Homo sapiens: one gene and its partners. The protein of the gene in region 3 purifies or fractionates together with the protein of the main gene of each other region. This does not show direct contact. Each region holds a gene or a part of one and is shown on either strand. Other genes may lie near its edges.

Region 1 (7,025 bases), about 120 Mb from region 3:
CTTCATGGCAATAATAAGAATGTGAGCTGAAAGTTACAGCACATAAAGGGAAAGTATATTTTCCTCGACATCACCTAGCAGCATATAGGAGCAATCTGGTCTATCTTTGTATTGTTTTCCAGGCAACAGAAGAACTCCTCGTTGCTCTAAGTGGTTTTTTAAATGGCCCCTCTTCTCCGAGTTAGAATGGAATCTTTACCATGTTTTGAAACTGCCAGAGAGCTGCAGGATTTGAGTTGCCAGAATCAACCTTGCCTTGACTTCAAGGCAGTCTGTAAAGTAGGGGGTTCTTTCCTCAGTATTTCAGAACTCTAAATTGGGTTTCCTTAGCAACTAATGAGAGCATCCTTTAGAATGCACTGTGTGAGGAGTTGGCAAACTCTTCTCAAAGGGACCAGAGAGTGAGTATTTTAGGCTTTGCAGTCCATAGGATTTGTGTTCCGACTATAGAATTCTGCCCTTGTAATGTGAAAGCAGCCATAAACAACATGTAAACAAAGGAGCATGGCTGTGTTGAGCTTGGCTGTGTTTGTGACTTTCTTTACAAAAAACAGGTGGTGGGCTGGACTTGGCCCACAGATTTGCTGACCCCTATCCTAGATTCATTTGTGTAGTCAGTGAATTCAGGACCTCAACTCTCATTTTTCTCCTTTAAATTCCTAAGCAAGCTTATTTCTAATATGGTTGTAACAGGATGAAAACAACTAGGTGAGAATTGGGATGGTTTTAAACATTGTTTGTGTTGAATTGGCTTTTCTTGTGTGGATTTTCCCCTCTGTTTTTCTAGCCTAACTCAGTATGAACAGTTGAAAGCCCATCAGGGAACTGGAGCAGGAATTTCCCCAGTGATCCTCAATTCAGGAGAGGGCAAAGAAGTAGACATTTTACGAATGCTCATCAAGGCCAAAGACGAATACACAAAGGTGAGTGTTTGCCCTTCCTTGTGATACATACACACTTCAGTTCCGCAGTGGGAATATTCTTGTTTAGCAAGACTAGGTACTGTGGATGCTGTTCCTTCCACCAAACAAAATTATATTACAAATAAAAAATCTTTATTTGTAATATAGATTTTTTATAAGCTGAAGAAAACTGTTTGCCTTTAAGTGGGTTAAAAAATAGCCTGAGAAATCAGTAGCCTTCATATATACAATAGCCTTCATGTATACAATAACCTTCATATACACAACTGGTAGTAAGTCTTGTTAGACTTACTGCAAGACCCCAACTTACAGTAGCAACAAATGAATATAAAATTGTTTGCAATAAAATTCACGAGAAATGGGCAAAACCTATATAAAGAAAATGTTTAAAAACTCCTGAAAGGCATAAAAATAGACTCAAACAAATGGAAATATACACCCTGTTGTTGGATAAGAAGATTCAACATAAAGCTCTTAGAAAAAAAATCTCTACATTTAAGGTGACCACTAAATAAATACCACTGGTTTCTTTTCCCCTCCCCTCCCCACTTCTCCCTTACTCTCTGATCTAGACAAGTTGAGTGTAAGGCTCATGGAAAGAAATATGCAAGAAAGAATAGCTGGGAAAATCCTGGCAAAGAAGTGTGATATTAGTAGGGGTTGGAGGTGGGGGAGATGAGTGGGGGGATGGAGCGAGCTCTCCCTGATTTTAAAACATTGAAGTCAACATTTCAAACAGTATGGTGTTGATGGTATTGATACCTAACAGCCCAATAGACCAATGGGACAGATTTAAGATTCTAAGTCTAGGATTAAATCCAATTGTATATGAAATCTAGGATATGATAAAGATGATAATCTCAAGTCAGCTATTTGAGTGAATTCCTAAATAAATGGTGTTGGGGCAACTGGTAGCCATTTGGAAAAATACAAAACTGAGTCTGTACCTTACAGCATACACCAGGATAAATTCCAAATGTATTAGAAATTTAAATGTAAAAATATAATGATTCAAGTACCAGAAGAAAATTTGTATGGATTTCTTTATAATCTAGGAAAAGAGAAATCTTTCAATTATGCCTAAAAACCCAAAAGCAATTAATTAAACTACATAAAAATAAAAAACATTTTACAAGGTTTAAATACAACACAAGCAAATAGAAAGATACAAAAACAACTCAGAAAAAAATTGTTGACACCAGAATGACAGGAAGGTTATTTTATGAAGAGCTCCTAAAAATTAAGAAGTACAAGATTAACACTAGAAAAATGGGCAAAAAATAAAAATTTTTAAAAATTATAGAATTTGGAAACTAGCTGAAATAAATGTATGTAATTGAATATCATATTGTCACATAATTACTTAGAAAAAAAATTAGAGTGACTTCAAAGCCCGCTGCTTGAACTGAACACTCTTAGTGGGTTATATTTTAAGGACAAAAAGAACTGCAAGACATTATAAACTTCATTCATTGGTTTTATTGTTTGTAGTAATGTTGGCATTTTAATTTTTCTACTGTTGGCATTGTAATTTTTCTACTGTTGTGGATATAATAAATATGAAATTAGATAAACGTGGTTGGAACCAAAACCTTAGTGTAAGGGGAAAAAAATCAAATCTAATAAGTTAAAACTACATAAGATTAAGTGGAAATATCAGAATTAGTTCATGTTTTGTTTCTTAGGTATAAAAACAAAAAATAGAGTTTCTCACTCTTGCCCTGAAAGGACATAAAAATAAAAGTGACTAACTCAGTAGCAGTAAGCATCTATATCACCCAGATTGTTGTTTCGAAATATTACTTCCTTCCAGAAGGTGTCAGGGCTCTTCAAAGAAATTTCTGATTCCAGGTCTGGAATAGTAAAACCAATAGGGTCATGTGAAAGGACACAGAAATCAGCTTCAAGGACACTGACCAGAGCACCACATTCTAACATCAACAGGAGTGACTACAATGGATTAAACCACATTGAATGTATAAAAATCTATGAGTTCCTGGTAATGAGAAAGAGAACAAGCAAACCAAACATATAAAACCAAGCAAAATAATTATTAGTTATCCGTTTGAAGGTGCTAAGGCACCAACTCCTTCCTCTGAAAATTGATAATTAATGGGAATGAAATAAGCTTTTATCCTGCCTGCCCTAAAGGGACTATATCTCAGAGTAATCAAACAGCCCTGGTCAATGAGGGAGAGCTGTTCTCTACCAGAGAATTCCAGCTAGTACGTGTGGAGAGAATAATAGAACTTAAAGACACTCTGCTTAAAATAATTGACTCAGGCAGTGATCATCAGTAATATTAATGTTATGGGAAAGGTTGATAGAAACTTGACAGTGGAAGGATCAGGCTGCCTCCTCCTGAACCCCGCTGATTATCATCATTAAAAGTTAGATAACCAGATTCTCTGGCTTCCTAATGTGATAAGATGTCAAATGTACAGCACCATCTTGAAATATTCTTGCCCAAAGAGTTGATCCTGAATCTCATTAAGCCTTGAGCTCTAACTTTTTAGTTTACAGAAAGTGAAAGTGGGTGGGGAGTGAGGGGAGACAAGGTAGAAAAACAAATTAAATGATGCTATGAGGAAGCAATCAGAAAAATCCTGAATGAAGTGGCACATATAGGCAGTTAGACAAGTTTCTTTAACATGCTTTGCCTTGACTGTGAGCTTCTTGAGTACGAAGAACATCCTTTATTCACTTTTATATCCCTTATTGTCTTCAAAGTACTTAGCACATGGTGAGTGTTAAATAATGGCTATTGAGTGAAGGAAGGAATATGAATGTGAATGAGCCACAGTTTAATTATCCTTCTATTGTATGGCCTGGACAGAGATGCCTTAATCTCAGCTTCAGACAGTAACTATTCTGTATTCATTTTGTGTTTTTTTAATTCTTCAAAAGTCATTAAAAAAAATTATGATGACTTGGCAACTAGTTGAATAATTAGTTATACTTTATTAATTATACTATATTATGCACACTAAAGATTAATCTTCAAAAGGTGACATTTCTGCCCTCCAGGAACTTAATGTTCTGTGAAGACAGTGTAACAATGGTAAATAAATACAAATATTGAAAAAAATTATTTTCCTTTCTTTCCCTCCCTCCTCTCAACACACACATACCTTGTATTGTTTCTGTTTTTTATCTTCTATATGTTATAATGTTTTGACATCTTAAAATCCTTTCTGGCTGGGGAGACTGCCCCTCCTGTGACCAGCCAGTGTTCAGAGATAGCAAAGGGCTTGGCCAGGAGCACGCCTTTAATATGCACACTAACCAATCCTGAGCCATACGTATCTCCTCGTCTCTGGCCTGTACAATATTCCTCTGCCTTAATCATCCCAGGGCCAGGTACCCAGCAACTGGGGACCACTCATACAGTTTAGAGCCTGCTGGAGTTATTCAAACTGGCCAATCTTAACCTGTTTACCATGCCCTGCCTTGCCTTCCTTGAGGAAATTCAGTAAATGCTCTAGCCTACGCCTTCCCCTTGCTGCTGACACCCTGAGGCTTCCACACGTGGCCCTGTGCAGCGTGGCATGCCTCTTGTCTCCAGGACCTGTGAGTATAATAAACTTTGTTTTCCTGAGACTCTCCTGTGTCTCCTCTCTGGCCTCACTTGAGTGACCATCACATAAAAGAACAGCACAAGCACACACATTCTCTGTCTCTCTCAGAAACACTCATATACGGTTCTGGAGATTTAATTTAGGCCATCACTTTATACTGTGCCTATGTCTTGGAATATTTTTCCCCTTACTTTATTTACCCTTCAGAATTTACATATCCTTTAAGGCTTAGTAAAAATGACACTTTTTACGTGGAGTTTTCCCAGGTCTCTTCAGTCAAATTAATTATTCTTCCATGTGAACTCAGTCTATTACTATTTAAAACTTATTTTGTTCTTCCTCATTTATTACATTAAGTCAACTTCTCCCAGTACACTGTAAACTGGTTGAAGTTAAAACAATGTTCTGTTCATCTTTATGCCCTCACAGATTTGTTATAATGTTGACATGAAGTGCAGACACTTAATTCGTGTATAGAAGGTGCTTTTCTGTAAAAATCAAATACATGTTGTTTTATGCGTAATGTCAGTTGCTCCAACTGTGAGATAAATAATAGAGGAAATTATTTCTTCTTCCATTAACAGCCAGATGTTGTGATACAGTGTGCCAGGACACCTGCATGATCACGCTACTTTCCTAGTCTCCGTTTTTCTTGGTTTGTCATTGCCCAGTACAGGAACCCTTGGAGTCTTCAAGCCTTCCCTAAGACGGCCTCAGTTTGTTCTTCTAACCCTACTACCCTCTACAAATATTTGAAACTCCTGCCAAACAGAATACTCATTTTGCTTCCTGAGAGTGCTTTCATGACTTTTCTCATACTGTTCCCACCCCTTCTTCACCCATCAAAATATGATCCAGCTTTCAGGGCCTGTTTCAGATGTTCTTTTTCCATCACCTTATTTTTGGCCGGCCTAACTAGGTGTGCATGCACCCTGCTAGCTGCCAGTGCCTTATGTTTGGAAAGAGCATTCCATCGCCTTCTTACATTGTGTTGTCTCTGCACTCACACACAGATATTTCAGAAAATGTGGAGACCCTGAGTAAAGTGGTTCTGAGACAGAAGAAAGGGGGTGAAATGGAAAGGTAGCGAGAGAGAAGGAAAACAGAATGTTCCTTCAGAGTTCTTGTTGGGAAGTGAGTCTCCGTTACTTAAAGTGTTCAAGAAGAGATTGAACAGTTACATATTGGTGATGTGATAAAAGAATTTGGCTTGTGTTGGATAAGTATTAAACTAAAAGACTTCTGAGATGGTTTTCAGTGCTAGACTTACTTTTATTGAAGTTTTCTTTTTAAAATTATTTTCAATGAAAAATTAAAATTGTATATATTTATGTATGGTATACAACATGATATTTTGATATGCATGTATATTATAGGGTGCCTAAATCAAGCTAATTAACACATGTATTACCTCACATATTTATCATTTTTGTGTGGCAAAAATAATTAAAATCTACTCTTTTAGCAACTTTCAGTATACAATATATTAGTACTAACTGTAGTCATCATGATGTACAATAAATCTCCTGAACTTATTCCTCCTGTCTAATTGAAAGTTTGTATCCTTTGACCAACATCTCCAAAATCCTCCTACCCCCAGCCTCCGGCAACTACCAGCCTACTGTGCTTCAGTGGGTTCAGCTTCTCTGGATTTCATGTAGGAGTGAAATCATGCAGTACTTGCCTTTCTGTGCCTGGTTTATTTCACCTAATGTAATGTCCTCCAGGTTCATCCATGTTGTTGCAAATGACAGAATTTCCTTCTTTTTTGAGGCTGAATAGTATTCCATTGTGTTTATACACCACATTTTCTTTATCCATTCATTCATTGATGAACACTTAGGTTTATTCCATATATTGGCTATTGTAATGTTGTGGTGAACACAGGAATGCAGCTATCTCTTCAACATACTGATTTCATTTTCCCTGGATATATACCCAGAAATGGGATTCTTCGATCATGTGGTAGTTCTATTTCTAATTTTTTGAGGAGCCAACATAAATTTTTTTTTTTTTTTTTGAGACGGAGTCTTGCTCTGTCACCCAAGCTGGAGTGCAGTGGAGCAATCTTGGCTCATGGCAAGCTCTACCTCCTGGGTTCACGCCATTCTCCTACCTCAGCCTCCCAAGTAGCTGGGACTACAGGCGCCCTCCACCATGCCCGGATAATTTTTTTGTATTTTTAGTAGAGACGGGGTTTCACCGTGTTAGCCAGGATGGTCTCGATCTGCTGACCTCGTGATCCGCCCGCCTCAGCCTCACAAAGTGCTGGGATTACAGGCGTGAGCCACTGCACCTGGCCCAACATGCTATTTTCCATAATAGCTATGCTAACTAATATTCCCACCAACAGTATACAAGGATTTCCTTTTCTGTACATCCTTGCCACCACTTATGTTTTGCCTTTTTGATGGTAGACATTCTACCAGGTTTGAGGTGATATTTCACTGTGGTTTTAATTTGCATTTCCCTGATGATTAGCGATGTCGAGCATTTTTCACATACCTATTGGCCACATGTATGT
Region 2 (7,717 bases), on a different chromosome or scaffold from region 3:
ACATGCACACCCATTAAAAGCATCCGCTTCAAAACTCACAGAATGGAGGCAGAGGCTAGGAAGAAAATCCCCTAGGATGTGAGGAATGGGGGTGTGGAATCCCATGCGCTTAGCTACATTCCTGAAGTGGGAGCTCACTCAGCAAGCCTGACATTATTGCAAAGCTGGCTAGAAAGTCAAGCCCCACCCTCACTTAATTCCTTTACAGATTCTTTCTTTTCCCTTTTTTTTTTTTTGGAGATGGAGTCTTGCAGTCTTGCTCTGTCACTCAGGCTAGAGTACAGTAGTGTGACCTCGGCTCACTGCAACTTCCGCCTCCCAAGTTCAGGTGATTCTCCTGCCTCAGCCTCCCGAGTAGCTGGGATTACAGGCGCCTGCCACCACGCCTGGCTAATTTTTGTATTTTCAGTAGACACAGAGTTTCGCCATGTTGGCCAAGCTGTTCTTGAACTCCTGACCTCAGGGGAACCACCCGCCTCAGCATCCCAAGGTGCTGGGATTACAGGCATGAGCCACCATGCCCAGCCTCTTTCTTTTCCTAATAAACTTTTAGTTTTGAAATAATTTTAAATTTACATTAAAATTGCAAGGATGGGCTGGGCGCAGTGGCTCACACCTGTAATCCCTGAACTTTGGGAGGCAAAGGCAGGCAGATCACTTGAGGTCAGGAGTTCGAGACCAGCCTGGCCAACATGGAGAAACCCCATTTCTACTAAAAATACAAAAAATTAGCCATACGTGGTGGTATGTGCCTGTAGTCCCAGCTACTCGGGAGGCTGAGGCAGGAGAATCGCTTGAACCTGGGAGGCAGAGGTTGTAGTAAGCGAGATCGCGCTGCTGCACTCCGGCCTGGATGACAGAGCAAGACTCTGTCTCAAAAAAAAAAAAAAAAAATAGCCGGATGTGGTGGCACATGTGTGTAATCCCACCTACTGCAGGGGCTGAGGCAGGAGAATTGCCTGAACCTGGGAGGTCGAGGTTGCAGTGAGCCAAGATCGTGCCACTGCACTCCAGCCTGGGTGACAGAGTGAGACTCCATTTCAATAAACAAATTAACTAATTTAATTTAAGTGCAAGGATGATACAGACAGCTCCCATAACCCTTTTGACCTGCTTCCTCTAATGGTTTTTTTTTTTTGTTATTTATTTATTTATTTATTTTTGAGATGTAGTCTCACCGTGTCACCCACGCTGGAGTGAAATAGCAAATGGCAAAATCTCGGCTCACTGCAACCTCTGCCTCCTGGGTTCAAGCGATTCTCCTGCCTCAGCCTACCCAGTAGCTGGGGCTACAGGTGTGCGTCACTACGCCTGGCTAATTTTTGTATTTTCAGTAGAGGCGCAGTTTCATCATGTTGGCCAGGCTAGTCTCAAACTCCTGACTTCAAATGATCCACCCGCCTCGGCTCCCAAAGTGCTGGGATTACAGGTGTGAGCCACTGAGCCCGGCTCTAATGTTAACATCTTACACAACCACAGCATATTTAGCACTACTAAGAATTTAACATTGGCACGTTACTATTTCTTTTTCTTTTTTTGTAGTTTTTTTTTAATTTGTATTCAAGACTCAACATAATCATTTTCTTTTCCTTTTTTTTTTTTTTTTTTTTTTTGAGATAGGGTCTTGCTCTAGTGCCCAAGCTAGAGTGCATCAATCAAGATCCTAAATCACTGCACCCTCGAACACCTACACCCAGGCTCAAGTGATCCTCCTGCCTTAGCCTCCCGAGGAGCTGAGACCGCAGGTGTGCCCCGCCACATCCGGCTAATTTTTTTCTTTTCTTTTTTTTTTTTTTTTTTTTTTTTGAGACGGAGTCTTGCTCTGTCGCCAGGGCGGAGTGCAGTGGCACGATCTCCGCTCACTGCAACCTCCGCCTCCCGGGTTCAAGTGATTCTCCGCCTCAAGCCTCCTGAGCAGCTGGGATTACAGGCTCGCGCCACCACGCCCGGCTAATTTTTTTTATTTTTAGTAGAGACGGGGTTTCACCATGTTGGCCAAGATGGTCTCCATCTCCTGACCTCGTGAGCCGCCCGCCTCGGCCTCCCAAAGTGCTGGGATTACAGGTGTGAGCCACCGCGCCCGGCAAAAAGATCGCCTTGCTTTTGACACAAAAGTGCTGGCAGCCCCCATCCCCTGGTACCAGAAGCCCCTCTGCACAGTCTTTTCCAGGTGTGGACGGATAATTAGGCAGTGACTTGCTGCCCCCTGCAGGTAAGACTGAGAAAGGCAGCCCCTGTGCCCTCCTTTTTCTTGTGTCCGGTAGATTTGGGGACGTTTGCTTCTCTCTTCTCCACCTCCTTTGCCTTCTCCCCACTACCCCACCCCCCGCCAGCAATTAAAAAAAAAAAGCCACCCTGGCACAATTTGGACAAAATCTATGAGAAATAAAACGTGCAAACGTGCATAACCTTGGACCTAGTAATTCCATTGGTTGCAAAAGTCAGCCAAGATTTGTGGGCACGGATTGTGTTCATTCATTTATCTAGGGCAGTATTAGGGCTGTTTCTAATTTGTTGGCTATTACAAATAAATCTGCAGTGAACATTCATTTACACAATTTTATATGGGTCTATACTTTCATTTCACTTGGGTTAAAACGTAGGAATCTAATTCTTTTGTCATAGTATAAGTGAATGCTTAATCTTTTAAAGAACTGTCAGACTGATTTCTAAACTGTTTATGCCATTTTACATTCACAACAGCAGCACGTTTGAGTTCCAGTTTCAACACATCTTCACAGATACTTGGTAGGCACAGCCTTTTTAAATTTTTCCCATAATAGTTTTTTTTTTTACTAGGTTTTTGATACAGAGGGAAATAGAGAAGAAACCAAAAATTCCGATAGTCCTCTGCTGACATTAAAAAGATATATTCAAGGGCCGGGCACGGTGGCTCACGCCTGTAATCCCAGCACTTTGGGAGGCTGAGGCAGGCGGATCACCTGAGTTCAGGAGTTCGAAACCAGCCTGGACAACATGGCAAAACCCTATCTCTACTAAAAATACAAAAATTAGCGGGGCATGGTGGTGGGCGCCTGTAATCCCAGCTACTCAGGAGGCTGAAGCAGGAGAATCTCTTGAACCTGGGAGGTGGAAGTTGCAGTGAGCCAAAATCGTGCCACTGCATTCCAGCCTGGGCAACAGAGCGAGACTCTGTCTCAAAAAAAAAAAAAAAGATATATGCATGTACACATCGTATGTAAGAAAACCGCACAGTACTGAAAGGATGAAAAGAAAGAAAGAAAGGGCCAGGGGTGGTGGCTCACGCCTGTAATTCTAATGCTTCAGGAGGACTGCTTGAGGACAGGAGTTTGAGACCAACCTGGACAACACAGCAATACCCTATCTCTATTGATTTTTTTTTTTTTTTTTTTTTTTTGAGACGGAGTCTTTGTCTGTTGACCAGGCTGGAGTGCAGTGGTGCGATTTTGGCTCACTGCAACCTCCGACTCCCGGGTTCAAGCGCTTCTCCTGCCTCAGCCTACCAAGTAGCTGAGACTACAAGCGCAGGCTACTATGCCCAGCTAATTTTTGCTTTTTGTGTTTTGTTTTGTTTTGTTTTAGTAGATACAGGGTTTCGCCATGTTGGCCACGCTGGTTTCCAACACCTGACCTCACGTGAACCGCCTACCTTGGTCTCCCAAAGTGCTGATTTAAATATATATGTACTTTTTTTTTGAGATGGAGTCTCTCTCTGTCGCCCAGGCTGGAGTGCAGTGGTGTGATTTCAGCTCACTGCAACCTCCGCCTCCCGGGTTCAAGCGATTCTCCTGCCTCAGCCTCCCGAGTAGCTGAGACTACAGGCGCCCGCCACCACGCCCAGGTAATTTTTTGTATTTTTAGTAGAGACGGGGTTTCACCGTGTTAGCCAGAATGGTCTCCATCTCCTGACCTCGTGATCCGCCCACCTCGTTTTCCCAAAGTGCTGGGATTACAGGCGTGAGCCACCGCGCCCGGCATAAAATAGATTTTTAATTGTTTTAACATACCACCAACCTTGTCACATGATATTGTCATTTACCTAAAGCTGAAAAATTAATGAATACTGATTAGGTTTACAAAATTAGGTTCAGCTATCCAGTGAACGCTCAAAATATGGCAATAAAAGAGAACGGGGGTGGTGGGGCGTGGCTCAGGCCTGTGATCCCTGCGCTTTGGAAGGCCGAAGCAGGAGGATCACTTGAACCCACGAGTTCGAGACCAGCCTGGACAACACAGCGAGACCCCATCTCGACAAAAAAATTTAAATGAAAATATTAGCCGCGCTCAGTGGCGCCCGTCTGCAGTCTGCTACTGGGGAGGCTGAGGCGGGAGGATCTCTTGAGCCCAAGGGTTCAAGGCTGCAGTGAGCCACGATCGCGCCACTCCACTCCAGCCTAGGTGACAGACCAAGATCGTGTCTCTAAAAAAGAAAAAAAAATCAAGGAGAGAGAACAGGTCACCCAAAAGTGCGCAAAACGCTCAAAAAGGGGTTGGGTTTCCAGCACCCTGTGTGAAGAATGGGAGACCGGAAGTGGGCGCCAAATTCGGAAGTGTGGCAGCAGATAGGAATCGAAGGGCACTCATTCGCTTGGCTCTCTGTCCCGCCCACTACCCGGAAGTGTGGCCCGGGTCCAGAACCAAGAGCGCATGCTCACCTTGTAGCTCAGCCAATCAAAGAGAAGCGAGGCGGCCATTCGGGCGGAAATAGTGTTTGCAAACAGGAAGTGTGGCACTCCAGCTACCGAAGCACTGGAGAGTGTCATGGAGGCCTACGAGCAGGTCCAAAAGGGACCCCTGAAGCTGAAAGGCGTCGCAGAGCTGGGAGTGACCAAGCGGTGAGGCCCGAGGGCCCGCGGGATTCCGTCTTCATCCCCCTTAGACCTTTTCTCGGGACCCCTGGCCCTGATCCTCCGACCCGCCGCCTCCTCATGTCTTTTTCCAGGAAGAAGAAAAAGAAGGACAAAGACAAAGCGAAACTCCTGGAAGCAATGGGAACGAGCAAAAAGAACGAGGAGGAGAAGCGGCGCGGCCTGGACAAGCGGACCCCGGCCCAGGCGGCCTTCGAGAAAATGCAGGAGAAGCGGGTGAGCAGAAGCAGAAGGCGGCGGGGAGGCGGGAACACCCGGCGCCGGGAGACTGGAAATTGGGGTCAGGGCTGGGACGCTCCGAGGGCAGGGGAGCGGTCAGAGGAGACCTTAATTACGGGGAGAGGATGCTGTACGTGAGTGAGAGAAGAGTCGCCCTCTGCCGGGGGAGCTCCAAGGATGAGAAGACCCCGCTGGCCCGAGTGGGCAGCAGAGGGGAGAGCTAGAACTGGCGTTGAAAGGAGGCCAGAGCTGGAGACCCGGGTTTGGATTCCAGTGCTGTGGCTTATTTGCCCTGCGACACTAGGCCAGTGACTTTCTTATTTCCGTGCCTCAAGTTTCCTCTTCTGTACGAGTCAGGGTAGTAACTTATTCTAAGAGGGTTGGGAACTTGAGAGGAAGTCATGAAAGTAAAAAGCAGTGCATACATGTTCAGTGGATGCCAGCTCTTGATATTAAATGGCCATGCTCGCCGCTCGAAGTCACCACAAAGTTTGTTTCCAAGACAACTTTGTTTGGCAGATTCAAACATGCTGTATTTTTTAAAAAATTAGTTATTTTTGGCGGGGTCAGAGCACTGCAGCCTCTGCCTCCGGGGTTCAAGCAATTCTCCTGCCTCAGCCTCCCGAGTAGCTGGGATTGCAGGCGCCCGCCACCACACCTGGCTAATTTTGGTATTTTTCGTAGAGATGCGGTTTCACCATGTTGGCCAGGCTGATCTCGAACTTCTGATCTCAAGTGATCCGCCCGCCTCAGCTTCCCAAAGTGCTGGGATTACAGGCGTGAGCCACCGCACCCAGTCTCAGCTGTTGATATTGAATGGCCATGCCCATGACGACTTTGTTTGTATTGTATTATAAGGCTCCGATAAATTATTTTTTCTTAACACCATAAATGTGTGCAGTGGAGAACAGAAGAGTTCACAGTAAGACAGAAACTGGGTCCATTATGCTGGGGAGAGGGAATAATCAGTGTAGGTCAGTGATTCTCACCTGGGGGTAGTCTCCACCCCCCTAAACTCCCACCCCGAAGCACATGTGGCAATGTCTGGAAACATTTTTGGTTCTCAACTGGGTTGGGGTGGGGACTACTGGCAACTAGTGGCTAGAGGCCAGGGATGACACCACACACCCTGCGATACACAGGACAGCCTGCCGCAGCAAAGAGTGATCCGGCTCCAAATGTCAGTAGCACTGAGGCTGAGAAACCCTAACCCTGGTCTAGGTGATTCTGTACGGTGACACTGGGGAAAATGGACCTTGGGGACAATTAACTCCTTACTCCCAGATCTAATTCAGGCATACAGAAAACACATGGATGCACTACCTCTGGCATGACAGACCTGAGTTTGACTCTGCCTCTACCACAAATTAGTGGTGTGACCCTGGGCAAGCCGGCTACCTATTACTTAAAGTAGCACTAAAGTCTGCCTCACAGGGTTGTGGTAAGGATTTAACAAGTCAGGCGGGCGGATCACGAAGTCAGGAGTTCAAGACCAGCCTGGCCAACATGGTGAAACCCTGTCTCTACTAAAAATACAAAAATTAGCCGGGCATGGTGGCACACACCTGTAATCCCAGCTACTTGGGAGGCTGAGGCAGGAGGATTGCTTGAACCAGTACCCGGGAGGCAGAGGTTGCAGCGAGCCGAGATCACGTCACTGCACTCCAGGCTGGCAACAGAGTGAGACTCCGTCTCAGTGAGACTCAGTCTGGCTCTGTCACCGAGGCTGGAATGCAGTGGCTCGATCTCGGCTCACTGCAACCTCCGCCTCCGGGGTTCAAGCGATTCTCCTGCCTCAGCCTCCTGAGTAGCTGGGATTACAGGCGCCTGCCACGACGCCCATCTAATTTTTTTGTATTTTTAGTAGAGATGGAGTTCCACCACGTTAGCCAGGCTGTTCTTGAACCCCTGACCTCAGGTGATCCGCCTGCTTCAGCCTCCCAAATTGCTGGGATTACAGGCGTGAGCCACCACGCCCGGCCTTTTTTTAATTTTTTGAAAAAGCCTCGCTCTGTTGTCCAGGCTGGAGTGCATTGGTATGATCTCAGCTCACTGCAACCTCTGCCTCCTGGGTTCAAGCGATTCTCCTGCCTTAGCCTCCTGAGTAGCTGGGACTACAGGCGCCCACCACCATGCCCAGCTAATTTTTGTATTTTTAGTAGAGACGGGGTTTCACCATGTTGGCCAGGCTGGTCTCGCTCTCCTGACCTCAAGTGATTCACCCGCCTCAGCCTCCCAAAGTGCTGGGATTACAGGCGTGAACCACCATGCCTGGCCAAGTAAATGCATTTCTTTCCCTTCTAACCCTGAGGTTGTAGTCAGAGGCAGGGCTGAGATTTTATTGCTGGAAGCCAGAATGAGACTTATGCGAGACTTAGGCAGCTATTAAGAGACTAATAATGGGAGCTCAGAGTAGAGCAGTCGTGATGGAGCCAGTGGAAGGTAACAGGTTTGGAATAGGTTTTCAAGGATGAATTCAGGGTTAGCTGTTGGGTTGGATGTAAGCTGGGAAAGAAAGAAGAGTCAAGGATGACCAAGACTTTGGGCTGGGCAGTTTGATGAATGAAGGTGCTGTTTACTGGGGTGGGAAGGATTGCAGGTAAAGCAGGTTTTCTGGAGTGGGAGTTGAGGGAGGGGGAACCAAAGCT
Region 3 (7,025 bases):
TAGATGTGTGGTGTTTTTTCTGAGGCCTCTGTTCTGTTCCATTGGTCTATAAGTCTGTTTTGGTACCAGTACCATGCAGTTTTGGTTACTGTAGCCTTGTAGTATAGTTTGAAGTCAGGTAGTGTGATGCCTCCAGCTTTGTTCTTTTTGCTTAGGATTGACTTGACAATACGGGCTCTTTTTTGGTTCCATATGAATTTTAAAGTAGTTTTTTCCAATTTTGTGAAGAAAGTCATTGGTAGCTTGATGGGGATAGCATTGAATCTATAAATTACCTTGGGGAGTACGGCCATTTTCACAATATTGATTCTTCCTATCCATGAGCATGGAATATTTTTCCATTTGTTTGTGTCCTCTTTTATTTCGTTGAGCAGTGGTTTGTAGTTCTCCTTGAAGAGGTCCTTCACATCCCTTGTAAGTTGGTTTCCTAGGTATTTTATTCTCTTTGTAGCAATTGTGAATGGGAGTTCACCCATGATTTGGCTCTCTGTCTGTTATTGGTATATAGGAATGCTTGTGATTTTTCCACATTGATTTTGTATCTTGAGACTTTGCTGAAGTTGCTTATCAGCTTAAGGAGATTTTGGGCTGAGACAATGGGGTTTTCTAAATATACAATCATGTCATCTGCAAATAGGGACATTTTGACTTCCTCTTTTCCTAAGTGAATACCCTTTATTTCTTTCTCTTGCCTGATTGACCTGGCCAGAACTTCCAACACTATGTTGAATAGGAGTGGTGAGAGACGGCATCCCTGTCTTGTGCCAGTTTTCAAAAGGAATGCTTCCCGTTTTTGCCCATTCAGTATGATATTGGCTGTGGGTTTGTCATAAATAGCTCTCATTATTTTGAGATACATTCCATCAATACATAGTTTATTGAGAGTTTTTAGCATGAAGGGCTGTTGAATTTTGTCAAAGGCCTTTTCTGCATCTATTGAGATAATCATGTGGTTTTTGTCGATGGTTCTGTTTATGTGATGGATTACGTTTATTGATTTGCATATGTTGAACCAGCCTTGCATCCCAGGGATGAAGCTGACTTGATCGTGGTGGATAAGCTTTTTGATTTGCTGCTGGACTCGGTTTGCCAGTATTTTATTGAGGACTTTCACATCGATGTTCATCAGGGATATTGGTCTAAAAATTCTCTTTTTTTGTTTTGTCTCTGTCAGGCTTTGGTATCAGGATGATGTTGGCCTCATAAAATGAGTTGGGGAGGATTCCCTCTTTTTCTATTGACTGGAATAGTTTCAGAAGGAATGGTACCAGCTCCTCTTTGTACCTCTGGTAGAATTTGGCTGTGAATCCGTATGGTCCTGGACTTTTTTTCTTGGTAGGCTATTAATTACTGCCTCAATTTCAGAGCCTGTTATCAGTCTATTCAGATTCAATTTCTTCCTGGTTTAGTCTTGACAGGGTGTATGTGTCCAGGAATTTATCCATTTTTTCTAGATCTTCTAGTTTATTTGCGCAGAGGTGTTTATGGTATTCTCTGATGGTAGTTTGTATTTCTGTGGGATCAGTGGTGATATTCCCTTTATCATTTTTTATTGCGTCTATTTGATTCTTCTCTCTTTTCTTCTTTGTTACTCTTGCTAGCAGTCTATCAATTTTGTTGATCTTTTCAAAAAACCAGCTCCTGGATTCATTGATTATTTGAAGGGTTTTTTGTGTCTCTATCTCCTTCAGTTCTGCTCTAATCTTAGTTATTTCTTGTCTTCTGCTAGTTTTGAATTTGTTTGCTCTTGCTTGTCTAGTTCTTTTCATTGTGATGTTAGGGTGTTGATTTTAGATCTTTCTTGCCTTCTCTTGTGGGCATTTAGTGCTATAAATTTTCCCTCTACACACTGCTTTAAGTGTGTCCCAGAGATTCAGGCACCTTGTGTCTTTGTTTTCATTGGTTTCAAAGAACATCTTTATTTCTGCCTTCATTTCGTTATGTACCCAGTAGTCATTCAGGAGCAGGATGTTCAGTTTCCATGTAGTTGTGCAGTTTTGAGTGAGTTTCTTAATCCTGAATTCTAATTTGATTGCACTGTGGTCTGAGAGACAGTTTGTTATAATTTCTGCTCTTTTACATTTGCTGAGGAGTGCTTTCCTTCCAACTATGTGGTCAGTTTTGGAATAAGTGCGATGTGGTGCTAAGAAGAATGTCTATTCTGTTGATTTGGGGTGGAGAGTTCTGTAGATGTCTATTAGGTCTGCTTGGTGCAGAGCTGAGTTCAAGTCCTGGATATCCTTGTTAAACTTCTGTCTCCTTGATCTGTCTAATATTGACAGTGGGGTGTTAAAGTCTCCCATTATTATTGTGTAGGAGTCTAAGTCTCTTTGTAGGTCTCTAAGGCCTTGCTTTTTGAATCTGGGTGCTCCTGTATTTGGTGCATCTATATTTAGGATAGTTAGCTCTTCCTGTTGAATTGATCCCTTTACCATTATGTAATGGCCTTCTTTGTCTCTTTTGATCTTTGTTGATTTGAAGTCTGTTTTATCAGAGACTAGAATTGCAACCCCTCCATTTTTTGCTTTCCATTTGCTTGGTACATCTTCCTCCATCCCTTTATTTTGAGCCTATGTGTGTCTCTGCACGTGAGATGGGTCTACTGAATACAGCATAGTGATGGATCTTGACTCTTCATCCAATTTGCCAGTCTGTGTCTTTTAATTGGGGTATTTAGCCCATTTACGTTTAAGGTTAATATTGCTATGTGTGAATTTGATCCCGTCATTATGATGTTAGCTGGTTATTTTGCCCATTAGCTGATGCAGTTTCTTCCTAGCATCGATGGTCTTTACAATTTGGCATGTTTTTGCAGTGGCTGGTACCGGTTGTTCCTTTTTATGTTTAGTGCTTCCTTCAGGCACTGTTGTAAGGCAGGCCTGGTGGTGACAAAAATCTCTCACCATTTGCTTGTCTGTAAAGGATTTTATTTCTCCTTCACTTATGAAGCTTAGTTTGGCTGGATATGAAATTCTGGGTTGAAAATCCTTTTCTTTAAGAATGCTGAATATTGGCCCTTACTCTCTTCTGGCTTGTAGAGTTTCTGCTGAGAGATCCACTGTTAGTCTGATGGGCTTCCTTTGTGGGTAACCTGAACTTTCTGACTGCCCTTAACATTTTTTCCTTCATTTCAACCTTGGTAAATCTGACAATTATGTGTCTTGGGCTTGCTCTTCTCAAGGAGTATCTTTGTGGTGTTCTCTGTATTTTGTGAATTTGAATGTTGGCCTGCCTTGCTCGGTTGGGGAAGTTCTCCTGGATAATATCCTGCAGAATATTTTCCAACTTGGTTCCATTCTCCCCATCACTTTCAGGTACACCAATCAAACATAGTTTTGGTCTTTTCACATAGTCCCATATGTCTTGGAGGCTTTGTTCATTTCTTTTTACTCTTTTCTCTAAACTTCTCTTCTCACTTTATTTCATTAATTTGATCTTCAACCACTGATACCCTTTCTTCCACTAGATTGAATCGGCTACTGAAGCTTGTGAATTCTTCACGTAGTTCTTGTGCCTTGGTTTTCAGCTCCATCAGGTCATTTAAGGTCTTCTCTTCACTGTTTATTCTAGTTCGCCATTCGTCTAATCTTTTTTCAAGGTTTTTAGCTTCCTTGCAATGGGTTCAAACATCCTCCTTTAGCTTGGAGAAGTTTGTTATTACCGACCTTCTGAAGCCTACTTCTGTCAGCTCGTCAAAGTCATTCTCCATCCCGCTTTGTTCCATTGCTGGCAAGGAGTTGCGATCCTTTGGAGGAGAAGAGGTGCTCCAGTTTTTAGAATTTTCAGCTTTTCTGCTCTGGTTTCTCCCCACCTTTGTGGTTTTATCTACCTTTGGTCTTTGTTGGTGGTGACCTACAGATGGGGTTTTGGTGTGGATGTCCTTTTTGTTGATGTTGATGCTATTCCTTTCTGTTTGTTAGTTTTCCGTCTCACAGTCAGGTCTCTCAGCTGCAGGTCTGTTGGAGTTTGCTGGAGGTCCACTCCAGACCCTGTTTGCCTGGGTATCACCAGCGGAGGCTGTAGAACAGCAAATATTGCTGCTAGATCCTTCCTCTGGAAGCTTCGTCCCAAAGGGGCGCCCGCCTGTATGAGGTGTCAGTTGGCCCCTACTGGGAGGTGTCTCCCAGTGAAGCTACATGGGGGTCAGGGACCCACTTGAGGAGGCAGTCTGTCTGTTCTCAGAGCTCAAACATCATGCTGGGAGAACCAGTACTCTCTTCAGAGCTGTCAGACAGGGACGTTTAAGTCTGCAGAAGTATCTGCTGCCTTTTGTTCAGCTATGCCCTGCCCCCAGAGGTGGAATCTACAGAGGCAACAGGCCTTGCTGAGCTGTGGTGGACTCCACCCAGTTCGAGCTTCCACGGCCACTTTGTTTACCTACTCAAGCCTCAGCAATGGCGGATGCCCCTCCCCCTGCCAGGCTGCTGCCTCACAGGTTGATCTCAGACTGCTGCACTAGCAGTGAGCAATGCTCCATGGGCATGGGACCTGCCGAGCCAGGCGCATATAATTTCCTGGTGTGCCATTTCCTAAGACCATTGGAAAAGCACAGTATTTGGGCAGAAGTGTCCTGATTTTCCAGGTACAGTCTGTCCCGGCTTCCCTTGGCTAGGAAAGGGAAAACCCCCAACCCCTTGCACTTCCTGGGTGAGGCGATACCCTGCCCTGTTTCGGCTTGCCCTCCATGGGCTGCACCCACTTTCCAACCAGTCCCAATGAGATGAACCAGGTACCTCAGTTGGAAATGCAGAAATCACCTGTCTTCTGCATCGATCATGCTGGGAGCTGCAGACTGGAGCTGTTCCTATTCGGCCATCTTGGAACAGACTCCTAAACTGGTTATTCTAGTTAGCAATTCCTCTAACCTTTTTTAGAGGTTCTTGGCTTCCTTGCATTGGGTTAGAACATGCTCCTTTAGCTCAGAGGAGTTTGTTATCATCCATCTTCTGAAGCCTACTTCTGTCAATTTGTCAAACTCATTCTCTGCCCAGTTTTGTTCCCTTGCTGGTGAGGAACTGTGATCCTTTGGAGGAGAAGAAGCGTTCTGGTTTTGGGAATTTTCAGCCTTTTTGTGCTGGTTTTTCCTCATCTTCATGGATTTATCTACTTTTGGTCTCTGATGTTGGTGACCATCACATGGGGTTTTTGTGTGGATGTGCTTTTTGTTGATGTTGATGCTATTCCTTTCTGTTTGTTAGTTTTCCTTCTAACAGTCAGCCCCCTCTGCTTCAGGTCTGCTGGAGTTTGCTGGAGGTCCACTCCAGACCCTGTTTTCCTGGGTATCACCAGTGGAGGCTGCAGAACAGCAAAGATTGCTGCCTGTTCCTTCCTCTGGAAGCTTCATCTCAGAGGGGCACCAGCCTGATGCCAGCCAGAGCTCTCCCATATGAGGTGTCTGTCAACCCCTCCTGGGAGGTGTCTCCCAGTCAGGAGACATGGCGGTCAGGGACCCACTTGAGGCAGTCTGTCCTTTAGCAGAGCTTGAGCGCTGTGCTGGGAGATCCACTGCTCTCTTCAGAGCCGGCAGGCAGGAATGTTTAAGTCTGCTGAAGCTGCACCCACAACCGCCCCTTCTCCCAGGTGCTCTGTCCCAGGGAGATGGGAGTTTTATCTATAAGTCCCTGACTGGGGCTGCTGCCTTTCTTTCAGAGATGCCCTGCCCAGAAAGGAGGAATCTAGAGAGGCAGTTTGGCTACAGTGGCTTTGCTGTGGGCTCTGCCCAGTTTGAACTTTCTGGTGGCTTTGTTTACACTGTGAGGGGAAAACTGCCTACCCAAACCTCCATAATGGCGGACGTCCCTCCCCCCACCAAACTCCAACAACCCACGTCGACTTCAGACTGCTGTGCTGGCGGCAGGAATTTCAAGCCAGTGGATCTTAGCTTGCTGGGCTCCGTGGAAGTGGGATCCAGTGAGCTAGACCACTTGGCTCCCTGGCTTCAGCCCCCTTTCCAGGGGAGTGGCAGTTGTCTCTCACTGGCATTCCAGGTGCCACAGGGGTATAAGAAAAAAACTCCTGCAGCTAGCTTGGTGTCTGCCCAAATGGCCACCCAGTTTTGTGCTTAAAACCCAGGGTCCTGGTTGTGTAGGCACCCAAGGGAATCTCCTGGTCTGCGGGTTGTGGAGACCATGGGAAAAGCGTAGTATCTGGGCCAGAATGCACTGTTCCTCACAGCACAGTCCCTCACAGCTTCCCTTGGCTAGGGGAGAGAATTATCTGACCCCTTGTGCTTCCTGGGTGAGGCAACACCCCACCCTGCTTCAGCTTGCCCTCTGTGCTGCACCCACTGTCTAACCAGTCCCAATGAGATGAGCCAGGTACCTCAGCTGGAAATGCAGAAATCACCCACCTTCTGTGTTGATCTCACTGGGAGCTGCAGACTGGAGCTGTTCCTATTCAGCCGTCTTGCTAGCCACCCAACATCACAGAATTTCTAATAATCTGGATGTGGGGGTCTACATGAAACTCTTCCTTTTGTGTGTCTTAAACCCTTTCCAGGAAATTAAGCCCATAGCTGTCATCAATTCTGAAACGGATTTACAAACCAAAAACGTTTAACAACAAATGACTGTTTGAAAAGATATTAAGGAGTAGAAAAGAAAGAAAAATGCAGATAGCTGGGACTTCCTGTCCTCCCCAAATTTCCTTGCATCGATAGCAACAAGAAGGGGCTTAACATTAGCCTGCTGAGCCAGGAAGCTGGAAAGGGGTCCTCTTCACCAAAGGACCACCCCAATCTGATGCTCCAAGATTATGAATGCCCAAATGGTATTCCTGGGGCCACCAGTCTCAGTCACAAATCTTCCAGGATCTTGAGGGGAGGGAGAGAAGGTGGAGTCTACTTTTCAGAGCAAATTCTGAGATTGCCACTATGTCTGCCTCACAGTTTGTGCGAGAACACATCATCCATATGCCTCAAGAGGATTACATCAGCTGGCTGCAGAGCCGGATCAACATACCCATTGGGCCCTACAGCGCCCTGAGGTAGGCTGGGCCTGGGTTGACCAGCTGTCTCAGTGGAGGAG
Region 4 (6,925 bases), on a different chromosome or scaffold from region 3:
TATAGAGTTAGACATTTAGTATTTAGTAAAGTAGGTCATATTTATACTTGTTGTGTCATGGTACCTGTGGAATGCCATGGAAATGTCAAATGGACACTTCTATGTAGCAACCTGGAGGTCAGAAGGGAGGGAGGTTGCAGAAATAGGTCGATGAAAGAGGTCTTGAAAGGTGGCATGTCAACAGGAACAAATGCCGCTGAGCTGTCAGGCAAGATAATGGTGGAGAGGTGGCTGTTGGAGTTAGCATCAGATGGCACCGGTGATCTTGGCCAAATCAGACATCCAGACCAGAATTGCAATAGATGGTGCAATTGCAATCTTAGGTTGGATTTCCTAGAAACAGTGCCTCAGATCTCTTGTGGAGGTGATTTGTAAAAGTATGCACTTCAGGAAACATTTGTAAGGGAGGGAGCAAAGCCCATGAGGAAGGGGAATGCCTGAAAGGGGTAAAGCCTTGGCCTTGTGCTGGGGGAAGAGGGCTCTGTGAACTCTGCTTGTGGCAAAGGAGCTGTTTTTTTTCTTTTTTTCTTTTTGAGACGGAGTCTTGCTCTGTCGCCAGGCTAGAGTGCAGTGGTGTCATCTCAGCTCACTTCAACCTCTGCTTCCCAGGTTCAAGCAATTCTCCTGCCTCAGCCTCCCGAGTAGGTGGAACTACAGGCATGCACCACCACGCCCAGCTAATTTTTGTATTTTTAGTAGAGACAGGGTTTCACTATGTTGGCCAAGGTGGTCTCAATCTCTTGACCTTGTGATCCGCCCACCTCAGCCTCCCAAAGTGCTGGGATTACAGGCATGAGCCACCGCGCCCGGCTGGAGCTGGCTTTTAAACCCGGTATCAGTCTCAGTCAGTCAGTCACTGCAGGCCAGCATTTTACATGGGATGAAAGGAGGGATGGATGGAAGGGGTGGAGGATACATACCTGGTCCTTCCAGTTAAACTATTTAATAAATAATCATGACTGAGAATATAAGCCTTAGAAGTACTGTTATTGTTCTGTAAATTTTTTAAAAACACTTTGAGGATTCATTGTTATTTATGCTCCTTGCCTTGGAGGGACATCTTGGTTCTACATATGTATAAATGTCTAGCAGATTGAAAATCTGAAATTCTTCTTTCATTACTCTTCCCATACAGTGCTCTTGCACTATTCCTCTAAGAAAGCCAAAGACACATTATACTTGTTTTTTAGATGAGGAAATCAAGGTGCTGGGAAGTTTAAGAGAACTCTACAGCCATTCATCTAGCATAAAAGGGCTGACGTTAGAACGCAGGCCAGGCCTTTGCCTCTTCCCTACCCCATTCCAGTGGTTCTTGAAGTGGGATCCATGCCCTCCTGCAAGCAGAATCACTTGTTAAAAATGTAAACTCCAGGGTCCCTCTCTGGGGGCAGGGCCTGGGATTCCACATTTTCAAAAGCTCCTCTGTAATTAGTGCATACAAAGAAGACTCATTGTCTTGGAGCAGCACCCGCTTCTTACACGGGGAGTCTGGGATGGGAAAGAGGAAAGCAAGTCAGTGCAACTTGCACATGTCTTATCACAAACCATAGGGAAGGAGGTGCCTTGTGGTATAAATACTGAGTTTAATGCCATTAATATAAACGCTCATATTCCCAAACAGACTGCCTGTACTAGTACATTACTTCCATTTTCCAAAAAAGGAAAAGAAAGGTTCCGTGTCAAAGAACTCAATTGGAATCCTCGCTTGGTACTTGCTTCCTTGCCAGCAGTGCTCAAAAAGAGAAAAAGAAAATCCAAAGTCCATGTACATAAAAGTTCCATTCCCGATGGTGGAGGGCTTAATTAAAGTCCTCAGATGTTTCTGTGCACCTTGGAAAACATTTTTATGAAATTCATATATTACCAGAAGTGGCTCCAACAATTCTTGCAGTTAAAAACCTTGTAACTCATGCAGCTCCATCAGGAGCAAGCTGCCTTTTTCAAGATTTGTTTTGCTGCTTCCTTTACCTCCGTAGCCTGTGGCAGTGACGGCTGCTCAAGGGCCTTAACTGCCAGGATGGCACTAGAGGATTTTCCAAGGTTAAGGTCAGATAACAGAATCTGGAAGAAATGGATCCCTCTTCCTGCATTTCCTTTTCTCATTATTTCAATAAATGCATTGAAGGCTTGTGATGTGTCTGGCACTACAGCAGGCACTGAGGATGCCACGCTGAACAAAGCGGCTGGATCTTCATGGGGCTCATATCCTAGAGGGAAAGACATAATAAGCAGACTCTGCAGTGTCACACAACATCACCTAGGAAATATAGAGATGCAAGTGCTCAGGCGCCAGGCCAGACGTGAATTCAACTGTGGTAGCAAGACCTTGTATCTTCTGATGGGACGTTGAAGTGTGAGAACCACTGGACTCTCATATGGTGATAAACTTTGGAGAAAAAGGACGGAGGCAGGTGTGTTGCTGATGCCAGCAAATGTTAGAATAGTGAAACTGCTACACCCTGGACTATGAAGCAAGCCAGATTTGAATCCCAGCTCTGCTACTTACAAGCTGTGTAACCTCCGGCAGGCTACTTAATCTCTCTGTACCTTGGGTTCTCCTGAGAAATGGAGATAATAATAGTAGCTATCTTATAGAGATGTGAGGATTAAAGGAACTAATGAATATGAAAGTGCTGAGAATAGATTCTCACATATAGCAAACAATATACTTGTTGGGAGACAATTCTCTGGACAATTCTTGCATTTCTACACGTCTTGGAAGCAAGGCACTAAGTACCCTTTTGTTCCAAACTATCTTTGCAAGGATGTTTGTATATAACATCCTTGGAAGATTGAGATAGTGTCTCACTCTAGAGCAAAGAACAGACATGCTTACTCCCATTACAAAAGATTCGGTTTCCTAACTCAGAGTTCCTGTTCTTGAATGAAAGTCATGCAGTATACAGGTGTCTTTTGGCCCTCTTAACTGTCATACTGTAGGAATCAATGCAAAAATGCTGATGGCTATTTCTGTTGTGAGTAAATGTCTGAACTGAGAGTCTAGTGTCTTCTATCAGCATTTGTAAAACTGGCCAACTGACTTGCTAAGTTGCAAGTAGGGTGAAATCTCAGACCCTTCGTAGTCCTTGACAATTCTGTGAAAGTGTGTAAGTGTTTGTTAGTACTAATGTTGTTATTACTCCACAGTACGTGCCAATTTTCTGGAAGAAACAAAAATGTAATTGATGGCCCTAGCCTTCAAAGAGTTCCCAGTTGAGCCAAGGAGGTTAAATATGCGAAGATGACGCAAAAGACATACAGCAGCAGGAAAGCAAAGCTTTGGAATGAAACTTGGGTTTGAATGTAGGCTGTGGATGCTCACCAGCTATGGCAACTCTGAGCCTCAACAAATTTCTATTTGTAAAGTGCTGTTGTTAATAATGCTTACTGTGTGAGGTTGTGAACATTAAGATAGTGCATGGAGAGAGCTTAGCACGGGTCTGGCATGCAGTAAGCACTCAGTTACCATTACTGATGTTGCTGTATTGCATTTGTGCTTAGGATACAAGCAGAGCACTTTCTCTCCCCTCCCTGGGTCTTTAGGGAAGTAAGGCCCCAGTACTGTACTTCCTTTCAGGTGGAAGCTGCTTTCCTTGGAACCACCAAACCCCAACTCAGTATGTCCCTGGATTCTGCCCAAAGAATTCCCCAGGGCTAAGCTCCTATAGGTGGGTGGCTAAAGGACTGGCTTCAGAGTCAGACAGCTCTCAGTGGATATATACTTAGAGATTTAATATGATATATACTGCTTTGAAGTTTATGTGGTTTTTGATGATTTTATTAATGTGCATAATAGTCCTAGCATATAATATGTGTTCAGCCAATGTTAATCAGTGCCCTAGGCTACACCACCATGATCTAATGGGCCATTCAATTTTCATGACTGTATTCCTAGGATATTTCTCAATGACTCATACATGGTAGGTGTTCAGTAAATATTTGTTGATTTAATTGGCTTGAGTGAACAAAAGAAGTAATACGTCCTTTCATCTTTTCTTTCAAGATATTTCTGCATTAAATCATCCTCAGTATATTTTTTTGAAAGCCAAGTTTTCCCAAAGCTCCTCATTTCCTCATCTCCCTCTGTGCCACTGGTTTTTCAGTTGCTGGGGGCTACAGACCCTCTCTCTAGAAAGATGGACATGTGAACATAAGCACTGCATTTTGCACACAATTTCCGTGGTTCAGAAACCACCTGAACTTTTCCTTCTAGAGGACCCTGCTTAAACACTTCCATTCTAGGGTGTCCAGCCCATTAAGATGGCCAAGAAATCACATCCCACTCATCTCCCCCAAATCAGCAAGCTGTCATGGACGGTCCTCAATACAGTTGCTACTTTGTTCCTCTATAATCAAGGCCACACAAGACCCACTTCCAATCTACTTGTGATTTAGGGATAGCAAAGGATTAAAGCAATTCAAGTATTTTAGATTCCTATTGATAGCAGAATTGTGGTTTTCAAGACGTGCTAATGGAAAAATTGTTAGTAAAAATAGGTTCATGCAGTCTTATTGATCATGCTTGTAATTCTGAAGATTCCACTTGTACTTTTTGTAACCATATTTCTCTTCTCTTCCATTCTCTAGTTGTGAGAAAACCCAGTTGTCCAATAATTGTCAAGCTTTCCTCGGCCTTAGGGAATGAGCACTCAAGACCTTTCTGGGCCAAGTGTGGTCGCCGACTCCTGTAATCCTAGCACTTTGGGAGGCCGAGGAGGGAGAGCTGCTTGAGCCTAGGAGTTCAAGACTAGCCTGAGCAACAGCAGGACTTCATCACTACAAAAAATAAAAAATTAGCCATATGTGGTGGTACACCCCTGTAGTCCCCCAGCTACTCGGGAGGCTAAGGTGGGAGGATTACTTAAACCCGAGAGGTCGAGGCTGCAGTGAGCCGTGATCGCACCACTGCAGTCCAGCCTGACCCTGTCTCAAAAAAAAAAAAAAAAAAAAAACCTTCTGGAAGCAGAAAGGAGGAGGTTTTCCAAAACCAAATCATGTCAAGTACCTAGCTTGACCTCAAAAAAAAATACAGAAGCAGGGTTGGTAATTGATTGACAGGAAGGGCAGCTCAAAGCAGGAAATGGAGAGTGGTATGAAAACACTTAAGCAGTACTGCCCAAAGGAAGAACCTGAAAAGTTCAGCCATAGATTTTCTGAGAAGATGAAAGTGTAGGCATTAGCATACTCAAGAATCAGGCAGACAGTTTTCCCCATTTGGAAGCTGAAAAAGGAATGATCTGCTGCCCAAGACAAGAAAATGATGTGGGCCCAGAGGGAACCGTCACTCACACGTACACTGTCCAGGGGGCCAGAGAAGGATTACAGCCGCCATTTTGGCTTCTCTAGAGTGAAGCAGCAAAACAATGTCTAGTGGTTGCTAGGCAACCATTAGTCCATCGCTGCCCTTTTCCATTAAACATTATCTGCCTTCTTAGATTGTTTTATTTTTTTAAACAGGATAGGTAATGCAACAGAGAATTAACGGTGCAACCTAACAATGAAAACGCATTTGAGGTTCCCGAATCAGTGAAGGCTTTGCAAAGGTTAGATCACTCTTGGGTGGATGCCGAAGATAGTGACAGTTGACTGAAACCTCTTCCCCAGACATTTCATCACTGGTCCTCATGTTTCCTAGTGCCAAAAATAATAATGTGGACGTAACAATAATCTCTGTACATTGTAAAATGTCTGTCCTCTGCTACGACCTGCTCCAAGCTAGATCTTGTCCTGAAGCAAGTTTCTCTATCGGCAAAGAGTGGATGTCAGAGGTGGTAAAATGGAGTTCTAGCCCTGGTCAGCTTTGCAGATAGCTAAGATCATGGTATCCAAAGAACCTGAGCAAAAGTACATGGAAATAACACCTGTTTATGCAAGGAACGCTTTCTGACACATAAAAATGAAGAGTAACTGGTAGGAGAGAATAAGCGTCTTTATTCAGATACACATCGCATTCGGATTTTAAACATACCTAATGACTTTTACAACAAGAGGACACTGAGGTACCCAGAAAGAGGGTGGAAAATCAGGATGAAGGGAGTTACTGCTAGCCTGTCATGTACCATGCACACAACCTATCTTTTTAAATACCAGTGGATTTCCTGTCTGGCTCAGGGGGCCTGTCTAGGAAGAGATTCAAGGAAAGTAGATGGGTTAGTTCCAGGGACTGGGGCTCAAAAATTTAAAGCCACACGTAACGTTAGCTCTCTCACTCCCACACACATTTAAGATAAAGGAGATGGCAGTAGTGTGCTGCCCAGAGGATGGAATACGCAGATAACTAGGTTTCTATACTGGTTCTACTCACTAGTCTGATCTTGGGTAATTTTTTGGGTCATTGTTCTGTAAGGGAGGGCAATAATAACTACTTGGTCAGGGCTGTTGTGACAATTCAGCAATAAAACATGGTCAATTGCAGCTAAGTATAATTATTACTTTATTGTTGCTGTTATCACCACCCACACCTCTAATACTGTTCCTGTACAGCTAGAGAAACACCGCTTTTGGTTGCCCCTTTCAGATTTGTGTTCTTTCAGGCTGCCTTTGGTGCTCTAAGTGCAATTTCATCTGGATAAGAAGAGTATGATATATGTTGCTCAGGGCGCTCTAACAGGAAGGGACTCCAGGCTCAGCTGTACCCAGCCAGATACCTGGCTTGTGGAGTAATTGACACCCTACAGGCAAGGGTGGACCAACTTCGTTATCGTGATACCTGCCAGGGTGTGAGGCCCGGTGTGACAGGTGTCAGTTTCACAGTCTGTGCAGATCCTCACATGTACTGAGATAGAACCGCCATTTTTTCCTATGTGCCCAACACCATGCTAATTACTTCTTAAGCATTATCTTATTTAATTTTACAACTCTGTGAAGTATATGCTATTATCCTTATCTTGCACACGAGGAAGCTTACATGCAAAGAAGTTGCACA

What was found.
Region 1: the proteins of CCDC60 (region 3) and DCP1B purify together in Homo sapiens (affinity purification with mass spectrometry; 2 studies listed by BioGRID and IntAct, with this or other methods). This does not show direct contact.
Region 2: the proteins of CCDC60 (region 3) and FAM32A purify together in Homo sapiens (affinity purification with mass spectrometry; 2 studies listed by BioGRID and IntAct, with this or other methods). This does not show direct contact.
Region 4: the proteins of CCDC60 (region 3) and FAM204A purify together in Homo sapiens (affinity purification with mass spectrometry; 2 studies listed by BioGRID and IntAct, with this or other methods). This does not show direct contact.

Annotation. Positions count from the first base shown.
Region 1 is NC_000012.12:1,959,456-1,966,480, reverse strand, and holds part of DCP1B (mRNA-decapping enzyme 1B), read left to right. Parts: intron 1-787; coding exon 788-923; intron 924-7,025. UniProt on the Homo sapiens protein: May play a role in the degradation of mRNAs, both in normal mRNA turnover and in nonsense-mediated mRNA decay. May remove the 7-methyl guanine cap structure from mRNA molecules, yielding a 5'-phosphorylated mRNA fragment and 7m-GDP.
Region 2 is NC_000019.10:16,180,700-16,188,416, forward strand, and holds the start of FAM32A (protein FAM32A), read left to right. Parts: upstream 1-4,710; 5' UTR 4,711-4,743; coding exon 4,744-4,817; intron 4,818-4,924; coding exon 4,925-5,066; intron 5,067-7,717. UniProt on the Homo sapiens protein: Isoform 1, but not isoform 2 or isoform 3, may induce G2 arrest and apoptosis. May also increase cell sensitivity to apoptotic stimuli.
Region 3 is NC_000012.12:119,533,728-119,540,752, forward strand, and holds part of CCDC60 (coiled-coil domain-containing protein 60), read left to right. Parts: intron 1-6,886; coding exon 6,887-6,988; 3' UTR 6,989-7,025.
Region 4 is NC_000010.11:118,297,419-118,304,343, reverse strand, and holds the end of FAM204A (protein FAM204A), read left to right. Parts: 3' UTR 1-6,419; downstream 6,420-6,925.